2 separate regions of the Homo sapiens genome follow, and region 1 is linked to region 2. Evidence: fine-mapped expression QTL. A gene starts in region 2. The other region holds a variant in brackets. All regions are shown on one strand. Distances are from middle to middle. Region 1 overlaps WNT3A (Wnt family member 3A). Region 2 holds the start of IBA57 (iron-sulfur cluster assembly factor IBA57).

Region 1 (2,500 bases), 120 kb after region 2:
GAACGCACGTTGCTCCCATAACAAGAACATACAAAGTGGAAGGTATTTGAGGCTATGGCTTTGCACTGGCATCCCCCTGGCTGTTGACAAAGCCCCCTGAGCCCCTCGGGCCTGCTTTGGTTGACTTTTCTGTGGATTGGCCAACAGCCCCCTGATGGCGGGTCCCAGCAGCCCCGTCCCTCCCTAGGGCCCTGTCCAAGTCAGGCCTGGACACCCACTGCATCCAGCCACAAGCCCAGAAGAAAACTGTCCATTTCTTCTGTATCCACTTCCCACCACCAGCTCAGGAAGGGCTCTGCTTGCTGGCTGGAGACTGTCCAGTCCTGAAACAGCCCCAGCCGCCCAGGCTGCTGTGGCCTTCCCAGGTGGCCCTGGGGCCTCTCAGCCAATTTGCCCCTCCTGGTTCTTATCTGTGGGTCCATCTCCCACCTCGCCATGAAGAGGCCCCTAGGAGGCCCCAGCCTCCAGCTTCCTCCTTCCACCACATGCATGCACAGCCACATGCGCACATGCGTGCGCACACAGACACATGCATACCACACACACATGCACACCCCACCTGATGCACATGCACACACACATGCAAACACACACATATAGGCATGCACACCACACACATGCACACATCACACGCATGCACACACATGCACACCCCACCACACACAAGCACACATGCACACCCCACTACATACATGAACACATATACACATGCATGCAAGCACAGCATACACATGCACTCACATACATGCACATCCCCCCCACACATGCACACCATGCAGGCATACCACACATACCATACACATGCACACACATGCATGCACATACCCCACATATACACACCCCACCCCATGCACATGCACACACACAAATACACACACACACCACACAACACATACACATACATGAATACCATACACATACATGCACACACAACCCCCACATGCACGCCTCGTGCAATGCACACACAGACACATGCACACACATACATATGCATGCATGCACACCATACACACCACACACATGCACACCTCCCACGGATGCACATATACATTCACAACCCACCACACACAAACACATGCATGCACACAGATGCACACACACACACACCCCTCCACATGTGCACCACACACATGCAAACACATGCATGCACACACATGCACACCTCTCCCTCGCAACACACTATCTGCAGGCTGAGGTCTTCGCCCAATGCCAGTTTGGCCATGCCAGGCCCCCTCTGGATCTATCTCCTCTCCTGACCTCAATGCCACTCC[C/G]TGGCCTCAGGCCGCACTCAGCCCTTTGTCCTCCCCTCGGGCTCTTTCCGGTTCCTTCCTTGGCTCAGGCTGGACCTGCTGTGCCCCTGCCTGCTCTGAGGGGAGCGGCCAGGGATCGGGTGTCCTCTACACCTGGCTGCCCCTCCCCAACCAGGAAGATTTGCCCACTGACTCCCTCCCTAGCCGCGGCTGCCTAGGGGCAGGGACTGTTTGGCTCACCTTTTATTTGCAATCTGGAGCACAAGGCCCAGCCCATAGATATTTCCTGGGGCCAGAATGAAAGGCAGGAGCCGTGGGCTGAGTCAAGGAATGAGCAGGGTCTGAGCCTACCCAGAGCAGACCCACCCTTGCCCCTCTAAGGCACCCAGGCCCATCATGCAACCTCCGCTGTTTCCTTTCCCAGGGAGCAGCTAGGCAGCCACCTCCTCCGCACCTCTCCAAGAAACTTAAAGCCCCCACCCCTGACCCCATGTTACTTCCCTAACACAACTGATCAGTTCACAGACAGGCCTGGAGGGGCCTTTGCTGAACCCACTGCCTCTGAGTGAATACACGTGTGGCTGGATGCAGAGCACTTCCTCTCTAAGCCTCCAGGCCTGAGCGCCTGTTCTTGTCTTTAAAGGACTCAGGTCGTCCCCTCCCTAGTCAGCGCCCCTTCCCCTGCCATCTGCCCTGCTTCCCTTCTAGGGCAGCTTGAGAGGTAGAGTTGAGGAGTGTCCTGGGTGCTCCTGGAGCTCACGCATGGCACACAGCTCCACCTGCCCTCCTGGCCGGACCTTCTCACTCCCAAATGGCCTGGGCATCCCACACCCTGAATACCCCACCCCAGCTGAGTCTGCCTTCCCACCTCACGGCCTGGCTACTACAAGAGTCTGTCTCCAAGGCCAGCCCCTCCCTCTTGCTCCTGAGCTTCTGGTAAGAGGAGAACCAGAGCCTGAGGCTAGGGCTCTCTGTGCCTCACTCATGCCCTGCCCATAACAAGGGCCTCGAGATCCCTGCTTATCAAAACTCAGGCAAACAGCCCCAATAGCCAGACACACTCAAGGGCAAGGGCGGGTGGTGCTGAGGGCTTCCACTTGGACAGAAAAGAGCTCATTCTTGCTCAGTTTGGTCACCAGCTGGCTGAACCTTGATTTTCTCTTCCATCACATGTGGAGGTGGAGCTCCCTGCCAGGCTGAGAAAACCCTGGAGCAGGCCTTCAATTCACTCGTGAAGACTGAAGACAAGA
Region 2 (3,027 bases):
AAAGAAAAGCTTCTGAGAAAAACACAGTTCACATACAAATAAGAACGGCACCAGACTTCTCAGAAAAGCTGGCAGCGAGAAAACAAAGTTGTGATGTGAACATTGTCGGTGACAATTTCCAAGCTAGATTTTTACACCCAGCCAGGATATCAGGTAAAGCCACTAGCAGAGACACAATGAGTCCAAAAATTCACCCCACGTAGCTCAGGAAGTCATTAAAAAGGTGTCCATCCCCTGAAACCAAAACACAGGAGTAAGCTGAAGAGAACAAGAACCGGGTCCGCCATAGCAGGGACAGCAGGCAGGCGGCCGCGAACCAGATCCACTCCACCGGGCGGAGGTTTCAGGGATCCAGGTCCCTGGAAGCTGGGCAAGGGAAACCCAAGGCTGTAAGCAGTCAAGGCCCTGACCCGGCATGAACATCACTGACAGTCGTGATGTCAGCACAGATGACTGAGCCAAATGCCAATGTGACCAGCTATGGGGAGACACAGGGAAACACAAGGTAAACAGAACTCGGGAGTGTCACCACAAGCTGTCACTCAGAAACACAGCTCTGCCACCAGGCGGGGCCCCTGAACCCCTTGTCCCTGCGGAGGGAGAAGGGTCACCAGATGGCCCACTTGGGAGGTGCCCACCTAGAGACGCCTCTGCTCTGATATGGTGGGCTGGCCCCCAGGCCTCCCCTGGATGAGTCGCTGACCCATCCCTGGGTGTTGAGCCAAGCCCTCCTCTGGGTGCCCTCCCCCGGGTGCTGGGCCCTGGGTGAGCTTCCCCTGGGTGTCCATCCCAAGTGGAATCTCCTGGGTGCCTGACCCTGAGTGCCAGTCGCTGGCCCACCCACCCTTGAGCTTCCACCCCATCCCGGCCCTCCCCGGGTGCCCACCCCCCACGCCCTCTGCAGGCCCCGGGCGCCCGCCCTGTCCCTGGGTGCCGGTCCCTGGCCACTCCCCTGGGTGCCCGCCCCCGAGCGCCCTCCCAGCACGCGCTCACCCGTACAAGATGACGTCATAGAGCGTCCGGCCCTGCACGTTCAGGAAGTGGGCGTAGCCCGCGCGCGCAGCAGGCGGGGCCCCCGCGGCCGCAGGACTCGGAAGCGGCAGTTCATTGGTCAGCAGCCCTAGCAGGAAGGGCGCCGCGTCGGGGCCACGCACGCGCAGCAGGGTGCGCCCGTCCAGCCGGAAGCAGGCCCAGGCCGCTCCGGCCGTTGGGTCGCCACCAGGACTGCAGGAGCTGTGGGCCAGGCGGCACCTTGGGGCCGCGCGCAGCCGCCAGCGCCAGACCGGGCCGCCGCGCCCCGGAGTGGCGCCTCGAAGCAGCGCCGCGGTCGCCATCTTGGACAAGAGTGGGGCAGCGGGAAGGGCCCAAGGAAGCGGGAGGGGCGGGTGCCACAGCGGCCCCTGGCGGTGGCCGCCGGAGGGAGGCGGGAAGGGGCGGGCGCAGAGTGCGTGCGTGAGGGGTGAACGGAACGTGCGTGCCTGAGGGGCGGAGCAGCGCCGGTTGAGGCCGACTGAGAGTGCGTGCGTGAGGAGCAGGGCCTCCCGAGCTGGAAGGGGCGGGCGGGGCGAGCGTGCCTGCTGGGTGGGTGGGGCATGCGTGTGGGGCGGAGCATCGTGCGCGGGGTGTGTTTCGGGGCGGGGACTCGGCCTATCCGTCAGCACGCAGGCTCCACCCTCGGTAGGTAACGAGGTTTCTGCCGGCCTCTTAAGCGCCATCCCATGTCCCATTCGGTGGCCTTCCTCGTTTTCACCCACCCATGTCGGGCACCGTCACTCATCTCGAGAACCTCTTCATCCTCCCAACCTGAAACTCCCTGTTAAACACCCACTCCCGAGGCCCTGGAGCTCCCATTGTACCTTCTGGCTCCATGAGCGTGCCTCCTCTAGGGACCTCACAGGAGCAGAATCCTACGGGATTTGTCGTTTGCGACGGCTTATTTCACTCAGCATAGTATTCTCAAAGTCCATCCACGGTCTAGCATGTATCAGCATTTTATTTTTATTTTTATTTTTATTTTTATTTTTTGTAAAGACAGGGTCTTGGTTATGTTGCCCAGGCTGGCCTCAAGCTCCAGAGCTCAGGCAGTCCTCCCTCCTCAGCCTCTTGAGTAGCTGGAACTACAGGCGCTAGCCACCACACCAGCTAATTTTTGTATTTTTTTTGTAGAAATGGTCTCCCCATGTTGTCCAGGCTGGTCTCAAACTCCTAGGCTCAAGCGATTCACCGGCTTTGGCCTCCCAAAGTGCTGGGATTACAGGCGTGAGCTACCGCACCCGGCCGCTTCCTCTTTCCTACCAGTTCGCCAGCGTCCACGTGTGGCTGTTGTGTCATTTTTTTCATTTGCTGGACCATTGGGACTTCAGCTGCAGGTGGCAGGAGGCTCCATCCCCAAGTGTCTCCACGGATAAGGACAGGCACCATCCAGCCCACAACCCCTCCGCACCCCTAATCAGTGTGACATGATGAGACACAATCACAGCTTCAAATCACATCCTTGGTAACTTCTGCTTTTTTCAGGCCAGGGTCACCCCCATCATGTGTCTATAGTCCTCTTCAGTGCAGGATTCCAAGCTCCCCTGGAGCCCAGCCTGTCCTCCCACAGGACGTCCTTCCAGACCACAGGACGTCCTTCCAATAACTCTCGTCCTCTCTTCACAGCTGAACTCACAGAGGACAATTTAGGCAGGAACCACACACTGCTATGACATATCCACCCCACCGTGCTTTCTCGAGGAGTGATGTCCCATACCCCCTGCTGAGCAGCCCTGTACAGTGGCCACTTTCCCTGGTAGTAGGTGACACATCTACAAGGTGGCCCCAGCAGCCTTCAGCCCTAGAGTCTGACTGCCCTGGTCCAAGCCATCCCTGCCTTGCTGGCCTCCTGGGGCCCATGCACCCTGTTGACATTCCCCTCTCCACTGCCCTCCACTCAAAGCACCAAAGAAGACTTACTCAATGTGTCCTTATGGTGCAGAGTCCCAGCAAGCAGAGGTCTTTGTATCTGTTGAATAAAAAAATTCCTCATGA

What was found. PIP is the estimated chance that this variant, and not a neighbour inherited with it, causes the effect. A credible set is the group of variants that fine-mapping cannot tell apart.
Region 1: its variant is the best candidate, but not a certain one, in a credible set for the expression of IBA57 in whole blood (INTERVAL, PIP 0.73).

The regions. Positions count from the first base shown.
Region 1 is chr1:228,044,920-228,047,419 of GRCh38, reverse strand. The region is part of intron 2 of WNT3A (Wnt family member 3A); the gene reads right to left. Among named protein-coding and RNA genes, the nearest start is that of LINC02809, 30 kb to the left of the region's middle. The variant C/G (reference allele first, on the strand shown) is at 1,272.
Region 2 is chr1:228,164,124-228,167,150 of GRCh38, reverse strand. IBA57 (iron-sulfur cluster assembly factor IBA57) reads right to left here and starts at 1,347. Exons shown (of 3, transcript NM_001010867.4): 1 at 994-1,347. The coding sequence starts at 1,334. IBA57-DT (IBA57 divergent transcript) reads left to right here and starts at 1,639. Exons shown (of 2, transcript NR_103540.1): 1 at 1,639-1,677; 2 at 2,659-3,027. LOC124904534 (a long non-coding RNA gene) reads right to left here. Exons shown (of 2, transcript XR_007066913.1): 2 at 1,969-3,001. RefSeq lists a silencer at 716-1,755 and an enhancer at 860-1,762.